Regions from separate parts of the Homo sapiens genome. Here region 2 is linked to region 1. Evidence: fine-mapped expression QTL. Tissue or cell type: testis. Region 1 holds a variant in brackets; the other region holds the start of a gene. All regions are shown on one strand. Distances are between the middles of the regions.

Evidence for each region. PIP is the estimated chance that this variant, and not a neighbour inherited with it, causes the effect.
Region 2: LINC01976 starts here. The variant in region 1 is fine-mapped to the expression of LINC01976 in testis (GTEx, PIP 0.96).

Annotation. Positions count from the first base shown.
Region 1 is chr17:43,583,534-43,588,678 of GRCh38, forward strand. No RefSeq gene overlaps it. Among named protein-coding and RNA genes, the nearest start is that of ETV4, 40 kb to the left of the region's middle. The variant G/C (reference allele first, on the strand shown) is at 2,374.
Region 2 is chr17:43,936,206-43,941,350 of GRCh38, forward strand. LINC01976 (long intergenic non-protein coding RNA 1976) reads left to right here and starts at 2,056. Exons shown (of 2, transcript NR_136406.1): 1 at 2,056-2,192; 2 at 2,356-2,757. PPY (pancreatic polypeptide) reads right to left here. Exons shown (of 4, transcript NM_002722.5): 3 at 4,938-5,009; 4 at 4,599-4,747. The coding sequence ends at 4,723. RefSeq lists an enhancer at 1,842-2,342.

The sequences.
Region 1 (5,145 bases):
TCACCTCCCATGGATTCCTCAACTCGCTTTCCACCCTTCCATGGAAATGATCTGTGGTTTAATGAGGTGCAGACTTTGGTCAATTTTGAAATTGCTCTTGCTAAAGTCATCAATGGCCAACTTGTCTTCAAACTACGGCTTGGTTCTTGTCCTCATGCTCTTCTCGCTCTGGTGGGTGGAACCCTTTCTCCTCTTTTCGTTTATAAGCTCTCCTGGTCTCCTGGATGTCACTCTTTCCTGCTCTTCCTCCCAGATCTCCCTTGCTGCCCCCTGGTCTCCCTTATTTCTTCCACTTTCCACTGTTGGCTTCTCACCTTCAGCTGTCTTCTCCCTCTAAACTCTCCCCGGGTCAGCTCACCCAGGCTCATATACCCTCTGCTCACACAGCAGTATCTCCAGCCTAAACTTTTCCCTGAGCCCTAAGCATATCATATCTCATCTGATCATTTTATCAGAACAATCTTCCATGCATGTCTGAGTCAACAAATCCCACAGACGAGCACATCTTCTGCTCCCCAACTTGTGCCTCCTCCCGTATTTACCTATTCGTATACGGTTACCACTATGTAAAATTGCCCAAATGAGAAAACTGGAAATCAAGCTAGACTCCTTTCTCATCCTCACCCTGCACATATAGTTACTCACTAAGTTGTATAGCTTCTTACCAGAAATCTCACTAAACTCCATCCCTGCTCTCTGTTTCCACCAGCAGTGCCTTGGTTCAGGCCTTTATCATTCCTCCCTGAATTAATGCAAAATATCCCAACTGACTTTTCTACCTCCCCACACTTCCAGTTTCAATCCCTCCTTTCCATGGTTGCCAGCATTCTCTTTCAAAAAACAGATCAAAACATGCCATCTTCTGTCTATAAGCTTCCAGAGTCTCCCCATTGCCAACAGAATAAAATCCCATTTTTAATCTCAGCATTCAAGGCCTTTCATAGTCTATGCTGAGTTTATTTCACCTGCCACCCCAGCCCATCACCTACTTTTTAATTTTAAAAATTTTAAATTAAAAAATTTTAATTAAAAAAAACTGTTTTGTAGAGACAAAGTCTCATTATGACGCCTAGGCTAGTTTTGAAATCCTGGCCTCAAGAAATCCTCCTACCTCAGCATCTCAAAGTGCTGGGATTACGGGTATGAGCCACCAGGCCTGGACCCATCACCTACTTTTACTGTATGCTTTGCTCAGCCTCCTGGCCTGTAATCACAATGCTTTCTTTCACACTCTGCCTTAGCACATACAGGTTCTTGTCTGAAAAGTGCTAGTCCGTCTGTCTCGCACAATTCTACTTGTGTCCTACTCTGCGAAATCCCTCCCCACTATCAGCTAAATAGTTGTCCTCTCTAAATTTCCACATTCCTTTATCTTCAAAGAGCACACATAGCTTCGTATTGCAGTTATTTTTCTTTATCTATCTCACTGTACTAGGCTGTAAATATTTTGAGGCCAAGGATCATGTCTGACTCAACCAATGCCTGGCAGTGTCTGGCATATATAGTCAGTGGATGCCTATTACTGAAGAAATTAACGAATGAACAAATGAATGAGTGATTTTGGTTTCTGGGCCTACGTCTTTCTTTTTTTTTTTTTTTTTTTTTGAGACGGAGTCTGGCCCTGTCACCCAGGTTGGAGTTCAGTGGCGCAATCTTGGCTCACTGCAAGTTCCGCCTCCTGGGTTCACGCCATTCTCCTGCCTCAACCTCCCAAGTAGCTGGGACTGCAGGTGTCCGCCACTACACCCGGCTAATTTTTTTGTATTTTTAGTAGAGACAGGGTTTCCCCATGTTAGCCAGGATGGTATCGATCTCCTGACTTCATGATCTGCCCACCTCGGCCTCCCAAAGTGCTGGGGTTACAGGCATGAGACACCGCACCTGGCTCCTGGGCCTATCTCTTCCTAGGCTGTGAATATAAACTGTGGTGAGTAGGGCTTGGGAATACATCTCACACCCTGTTTGTCAACATTTCCCCAGGACAATGCCTGGCACAATGCTCTCAGTGCTGATGCATTGGATGTGCAAAAGGTCCTGGGTTCAGGCCAATTTAGATTTCTTTGGCATGAAGAGCAGCAAATTAACATTCCTCTCTCCCTATTACAGATGAGACAGATGAGCTTAGAAATCTTAAACAACTCAGCAGGCTGGGCGCGGTGGCTCACGCCTATAATCCCAGCACTTTGGGAGGCCGAGGCGGGTGGATCACGAGGTCAGGAGATCGAGACCATCCTGGCTAACACGGTGAAACCCCATCTCTACTAAAAAATACAAAACATTAGTCGGGCGTGGTGGTGGGTACCTGTAGTCCCAGCTGCTCGGGAGGCTGAGGCAGGAGAATGGCGTGAACCTAGGAGGCGGAGCTTGCAGTGA[G/C]CCGAGATCGCACCACTGCGCTCCTGCCTAGGCGACAGAGCGAGACTCTGTCTCAAAAAAAAAAAAAAAGAAAGCTTAAATAACTCGTCCTAGGTGTATGGTGGCATCAGATAATCTAAGGGACAGGGGCATTAGGGGTTACTGACCAATGTGGAGCCCTCAGCACACATGGAATGATTGTGATCCCAAGCAGAATTAATGTGGGCACATTGTTCTCTGCAGGCTGTAGGTCTTCTCACTGGGGCTTGTATTCCAGGAAGGGGCCTTCTCTGGCTGGCCCAGATTTAGAGTGAGGGGAGTGAGGAACTCACCACAGGCCCAAAATGTAAGGGGCACCGAGTAATCAAGATAAATAAAATTTAATGCATTTTTTTTTTCTTTCAGAGACAGGGTCTTGTTCTGTGCCTCAGGCTGGAATGCAGTGGCACAGTTATGGCTCACTGCAGCCTGGAACTCCTGGGCTCAAGCAATCCTCCTGCCTCAGCCTCCTGAGTAGCTGGAACTACAGGCATGTGCCACCACGCCCAGCTAATTTATTTATTTTTTGTAGAGACAGGTTCTTGCTATGTTTCCCAGGCTGGTCTTGAACTCCCGGCCTCAAAAAATTTTCCTGCCTAGGCCAGGCATGGTGGCTCACGCCTGTAATCCCAGCACTTTGGGAGGCCGAGGCAGGCCGATCACAAGGTCAGGAGATTAAGACCATCCTGGCTAACATGGTGAAACCCCGTCTCTACTAAAAATACAAAAAATTAGCCAGGTATGGTGGCAGGCACCTGTAGTCCCAGCTACTAGGGAGGCTGAGGTAGGAGAAGGGCGTAAACCCAGGAGGTGGAGCTTGCAGTGAGCCGAGATTGCGCCATTGCACTCCAGCCTGGGCAACAGAGCGAGACTCCATCTCAAAAAAAAACTTTTCCTGACTCAACCTCCCAAAGTGCTGGGATTACAGATGTGAGCCACTGTGCCTGGCCTAATGCAATATTTTTGTTGTCAGTAAACTACAGTCTGTGAGCTGGCTGCCTGTTTTTTAAAACAAGGTTTTATTGGAACCAAGACTGAGATTAGGGTGAGGTGAATGAGACACGATATTGAGGGAAGGGTTGGATCTTGTGTTTATTTGAAATCTTAATATTTTGTTCATCATCAATTTTTACATTAATTTTGATTTTTTTTTATTTTGAGATGGAGTCTCGCACTGTTGCCCAGGCTGGAGTGCAGTGGCGCGATCTTGGCTCATTGCAAGCTCCGCCTCCTGGGTTCACGCCATTCTCCTACCTCAACCTCCCTAGTAGCTGGGACTACAGGCACCCGCCACCATGCCCGGCTAATTTTTTGTACTTTTAGTAGAGACAGGGTTTCACCGTGTTAGCCAGGATGGTCTTGATCTCCTGACCTCATGATCCACCCGCCTTGGCCTCCCAAAGTGCTGGGATTACAGGCGTGAGCCAATGCACCTGGCCAATTTTGATTTTTAAAAATTGCGTTAAAGTATTATCTATCTTGGACCGGGCACAGTGGCTCATACCTGTAATCCCAGCACTTTGGGAGGCTGAGGCAGGTGGATCACCTGAGGTCAGGAGTTGGAGACCAGCCTGGCCAACATGGTAAAATCCCGTCTCTACTAAAAATACAAAAATTAGCCAGGCATGGTGGTGATGCATGCCTGTAGTTCCAGCTACTAGGGAGGCTGAGGTGGGAGAATCGCTTGAGCCTGGGAGGCAGAGGTTGCAGTGAGCCGAGATCATGCCACTGCACTCCAGCCTGGGGAACAGAGTGAGATTCCATCTCAAAAACAACAAAAAAGTATTATTGTATTTGTCACTTTTCACGCTGCTGATAAAGACATACCTGTGACTGGGCAAATTACAAAAGAAAGAGGTTTAATAGAGAATTCACAGTTCCACGTGGCTGGGGAAGCCTCGCAATCATGGAAGAATGCAAGGAGGAGCAAGTCACATCTTACACAGATGACAGCAGGCAAAAAGAGAGAGCTTGTGCAGGCAAACTTCTGCTTTTTTTTTTTTTAAACCATCAGATCTCATGAGACTCATTCAGTATCACACGAACAGTGCAGGAAGATCTACCCCCATAATTCAATCACCTCCCACTGGGTTCCTCCCATGACACGTGGGAATGGTGGGAGTTACAATTCAAGATGAGATTTGGGTGGGGACACAGAGCCAAACCATATCAGTTATCTATCTTGATTTCTGAGTTTTGGGGCACTCCCTTAAGTTGTGTTGGAGGCAAATGCCTTAATTGTCTCTTAGGGCCTTCCCCCATTGTACCGTGGGTTCTAAGATGGGCAGCTGCCAGTAAAGACTGGGCCCTGGGGTTCAGTTCCCTTGGTTCCCTGGCTGACTGCAGCCCCAAGCAGCCTGGACAAAACAGCTGTGGGCAGATACTTCCTGTCCCTCAGGAATTGTTGCATGAGGTTTTGGTTTGGCTTCTTTAGGAAATTAGGTCTCCCTTCATCCACTGGTGTTTCTTTGTTGAACAGCTGTCATCAGCCAGCCACCAAACGTGACAGAATTGGGTTTCTCACACTGTTGCCCAGGCTGGGGTGCAGTGGTGCAAACATGGCTTACTGCACCCTCAATCTCCCAGGCTCAAGTGATCCTCTCATCTCAGCCCCACCAAGTAGTTAGGATTACAGGTGTGCACCACCACACCTGGCTAATTTTTGTACTTTTTGTAGAGAAGGGGTTTCACCATGTTGCCCAGGCTGGCCTCAAACTCCTGAACTCAAGTGATCTGCTTTCCTTGGCCTCCCAA
Region 2 (5,145 bases), 350 kb after region 1:
AGGGAAAGGGGGCAGGGATGCTTAGGAATATAAAGGGCCTCAGGTCCTGGCCAGAGACACTCTGCTGAGCTCCTCTGCACCTGCCCAGCACCATGGTGATGTCTGGTGGCCAAGTCTGGGCCCCCATCAGCTGTATTCTCTAAGAGCTTGGGGATGGGGGCTGGCACCAAGGGCCCCTCCTCAGGCCCACTAAGGGCATGAAGGAGTTAGGCCAGGGCAGCCTCGTCTGCCATTCTGATGGCCAGGATAGCTACTAGGGCTTCTTATTCCTGCTTGGGGTGGTGGGGATGAGGAGAGTTCCTGGTTAAAAGAGGGTTGAGGGGCCTAGGAGCTCTGGGAGTGTGCATCATGTTTACGGGCATCATAGTCTGTGAATCATTGTGTGTTGCAGGCACAAAATTCTCTGTGCATTGGGTGTGTGAATCCTCAGGCTGGCTTTCCTGTGTGTAACTGTTAGTCATTCATTTAATATGTATTACTGAGTATCTGCTAAGTGCCAGGCACCATTCTAGGTGCTTGTGATCCATCAATAGACAAAATAGGCGAAGAGCCCAGCTGTAATTAATGATGCTTACATTGAGGGAGGATATGCCGCTGGGAAGGGACTCAGACAACAAATATAAGTATAGAATATAGTAAGTTAGAAAGTGCAGGCCAGGTGTGGCGGCTCATACCTGTAATCTCAGAACTTTGGGAGGTGAGGCGGGAGGATCTCATGAGGCCAGGAGTTTGAGACCAGCCTGGGCTACATAGCAAGACTCCATCTCTACAAAAAATTAAAATTTAGTTGGGCATGATTGTATGCACCTGTAGACCTAGCTACTTGGGAGGCTGAAGCAAAAGGATGGCCTGAGCCCAGGAGTTTGAGGCTGTAGTGAGCTATGATCCCGACACTACATTCCAGCCTGGAAGGCAAAAGAAGGCCTTGCCTTAAAACAATAAAATAAAATAAAAAGAAAGAAAAGAAAAAATAGGGCAAAAATAGAGCAAGAAAAAGAGCAAGATGAGGGGTTTGGTTGCAATATTATTTTATTTATTTATTTTTTTAAATCGTAGAGACGGGGCTCTCTGTCTTTTGCCCAAGCTAGTCTTGAACTCATGGGCTCAAGCAGTCCTCCCACCTCGGCCTCCCAAAGTGCTGGGATTACAGGCGTGAGCCACCGCGCCCGGCCAGGTTGCAATTATAAATAGGGGTGTCAGGGTAGGATCCATTTAAAAGGTGGATTTTGAGCTAATGCTTACAAGGGGAGACAGAGCTGGCCATGAGGATGTCTGGAGGAAGAGTCTTCCAGGCAGAGAACAGAGTGACCGTCATTTTGCGGGAACAGCAGGGAGAAAGGAGGGGGATAAGCAAGGAGTTTGCGGGAGAGAGGGCAGTGAGGTTAGGGAGCTGACCAATGGCTTTATGCCGTCCTCATGCGTCCACCTTAGGGTGTGTCTCCTCGTTCGTTTTTTTTTTTTTTTTTTTCTTTTTCTTTTTTTTTTTTTTCTTTTTTTGAGACGAAGTCTGGCTCTGTTGGGCAGGGTGGAGTACAGTGGCGCAATCTCGGCTCACTAAAACCTCCACCTCCCGGGTTCCAGCAATTATCCTGCCTCAGCCCCCAGAGTAGCTGGGATTACAGGCGCCCACCACCACGCCCGGCTAATTTTTGTATTTTTAGTAGAGACGGGGTTTCGCCATGTTGGCCAGGCTGATCTTGAACGCCTGACCTCAGGTTATCCGCCCGCCTCGGCTTCCCAAAGTGCTGGGATTACAGGCGTGAGCCACCGCGCCTCGATGCTCTGCCTGCATCACCGGGCATGTCCAGGTGTGTACCATTCCTCCGAGCACCAGGATGTCCCTTAAGGCGTCCGTGCTCTGGTGTGTGTCCCAGAAATAGACACGACCCTCGGTCTGAGCGCCCCTGCACCCCAGCCTGCCCACCGCGCGGAACACCTGCAAGCTCCGGTCCGGGTGCCGCGCTGACCACAGCCCCGGCATCACGTGACCTCCCGCGGCTCTGTCTGCCCCGCCCCCTCCAGACGCCTGCTCTGCGCTGCGCATTCGCTCTGGCCATAGCGGGCCTCGTGTCGCTGCTGATGCAGCCCGAGGGCGCCCTCGGCGAGGAGCTGCAAGTGCCGCAGCCCAGGGCCGCCAGTTGGCTGAACTTAGGCTCCATCAAGAAGTACTTGGGGAAGCTCTTCAACAGCAGGTGGGCCGGCGGAGGGTGTGAGGAAGGGAGGGAGGGAGGGAGGAAAGCGGGGGGTGGGGGGGGCGCGGGGGGGGGACACGGACGCCACCAGGCACCCCCACGCACATCGCGGCCTGAGCTGGGCTCGGGGAGCGGCCTCATGACTGCAAAGACTTGTTCCCAGCCCGAAGAAATCTAAAAACCACAAGAAAACTGCGAACGCCACGGACACCTCCCCATCAAAAGCCACGAAACCCCCACCATGGACCACCACGAACCCCCAGTGGCTGAACACCTCGGAACCCCGACCACCGACCTCCTCCCGGGGCCCCAGGTAGGACAGCCTGGATGCTGGGCACCGAGCCAGGGGCCTCGGGGCTGGGGGCAGCTTGGGTGCTAGCGAGAGGAAGTTCCTGGGGGCGGGCATGCGGGGAGACACAGCACCCCTGTGGGGGGGGCTTCTTTCTCCAGGCTGGGCCTTGGCCTCCAGACGCCTCTCTGCCCACCAACCCCTTTGTATTGAGAGGGGCCTCGACCCCTCCTCATCCCCTCAGTGAAAACAATAAAGACAAATTTTTGTTGCTTCAGTGACTTCTGTGGGCCTGCGGGCAGGGAGGGACCAGTCCATGGAACGGGAAGTGGGACCCTGTAGTTTCTGCTGTGAGAGAAAAAGACCTCAGCTGTTGGGGGTCCTCCCCTGCCTCCCCTGGCAACCCATCCACCTTCCCCCACTCCACCCACACATGGCCTTGTGGGTCTGGCCCTCCACCCCGTGGTAGAGACACAGATACGGGTCCTGGAGAAGACACTTATTGCCCCTGTAGTCCTGCACAGACAGCACCAGTGTGGGGGGCTCTAACCCAGAGGGAGAGCAGAGGTGAGAGAAGAAACCTCAAAGAAGGGGCTTCAGCTAGACACACCCCAACTCCCACCTGGCTCAAGTTTCTACCAAACAGCCCAGACTCCTCTCCCCATTCACCGCGCATCCCCTTAAGCTGCCAGAGAAAATGCTGGGACTTCAGGCTCCCTCTCCCAGACTCAAACCGTTCTTTTGCGAAACCATCTCTCTATCCAGACATCTTTGGATTTAAGAATCAACCTGAGGCTGGGCACAGTGGCTCACACCTGTAATCCCAGCATTTTGGGAGGCCGAGGTGAGCAGATCGCTGGAGCCCAGGAGTTTAAGACCATGCTGGGCAACATAGCAAGACCCTGTCTCTAAAAAATAAAAAAATTTGCTGGGTGTGGTGGCATGTGCCTGTAGTTCCAGCTGTTTGGGAGGCTGAGGCAGGAGGATCGCTTGAGCCCAGGAGGTCAAAGCTATGGTGAGCTGTGATCATGCCACTGTACTCCAGCCTGGGTGACAGAGCAAGATCCTGTCTCCAAAAACAAACAAAAAATCAATCTGAGCCAAGCAGCTGCATCCTCTAGAAGCTCTTTGCCTTTTAGGACCTGTTTCTACTTCCAGGTCATTTGCACACACCAGATGGAGTAGGACTTGAGGGGAAACACAATTGTGTGTCATTTCCATTTCTGTGCAAGGTGCTGAGCCCAGGAAAGTGGACCCCTCATCCTCCAAACCCATAACCCCATCCCTTGAGACCAAGCATGTGGGGGAGGCAGGAGAAGCCTTTCTAGGAACCAGAAACATTCTAGTTCCCTCACTTCTCCCCTTTACACATGCGCGTACACACGCATGCACACGCGCACTGTCCCCACCTATTCAGGGTGCCTGAGAAGGGCCAGGAAAAGATGGGTTCTCTGGGAATCTGGGAAGTCCTCCCTGGGGCAGGATCCAGGTCCTTGTCCTCCCAGGGCTGGAGTGTACAATCTACAGATTCAACTCATGGTGGCTGGAACTCTCAGCTAATCTAGCCTCCTCCCCTTCCACAGCAGCTTGAATACCTCCTGTGCCCAGGACTTCACTACCTCTCAGGGCAGCCCATTCTCTCCAAATTTCTGGACGGCAGCTCAGGCCCCTGGATGCAGCCATGACTGCCATAGCACCAGAATCGTTCTTCCAGGCTGGGCTGTGCCCCTGCCCCCATGCCAAGGGTGCTTTCGTATAAATTTTGGTGCTTCTGCTGCCTAGGCTGCAGTAAGGCACTGGTGAGGGGTGCACTTGGGGAAGGGTTGTCATCAGGCTGTGTCGGGAAGGTCTATGGGTACTGAACTGGGAAGATTCAAGACTGCCACTTCACAGACTTGCTGAAGGACCATCTGCTCAGAGGAGTCCCTGCCTTCCTCTGGCCACCACTTTTCCCTCTGCGAAGGGGAGAGGATGAGTTGAGTGACTCTGATGACCCCCGCCAACGTTCTGGATGATCCCCTTTTCCTCTGCCCTGCCCTGCCCTCCCCTTTCTCTCCCATGCATTTGGCACTTCCTGCTGCCCCCACCAGGGGTCCACAGAGACACAGGACAGGCTGTGGCTTTGACTTGCTTTATTGAGCCTGTGTGGGAGCAGGGAGCAAGCTTTGGCCAGAGCCAAGGGTGCAGAGGGGAGAGCTGGGCTGGCGCTGCTCATGGAGTCGTAGGAGACAGAAGGTGGCATTATAAGTCCAGCGGGCTGAGCTCCCTGTGAGGACAGGGCAGAACATGGCAGTGTAGGGGGTAGGCCTCGTGCCCTCAGGAGGCCTCAGGCTGGCCCTGGGCTCCTGTTCTCCCTCTTCCACCCCCCACTACACCTTTCCAAGCCCTGATTCAGTCCCACCACCCCCATTTCAGCTCCAGGGAGCTGGACAGACAGGGCAGGGAGTCAAACTCACCTGGGGACAGCAGCATGCGGGGACCCCCACTCCGAGAAGGCCAGCGTGTCCTCTTTGTGTCTTTTCCCATACCTGGGAGGGAAGAGGCAGCAGGGGCAAGCACTGTGCCCAGGTGCCAGCCCACCTGTTTCATATCTGCCTGTAGGCACCATCTTGCCCAGGGCACATTGGTCTAGGCCTGTTGAGCACAGATGCCCTGTTTTCCCAA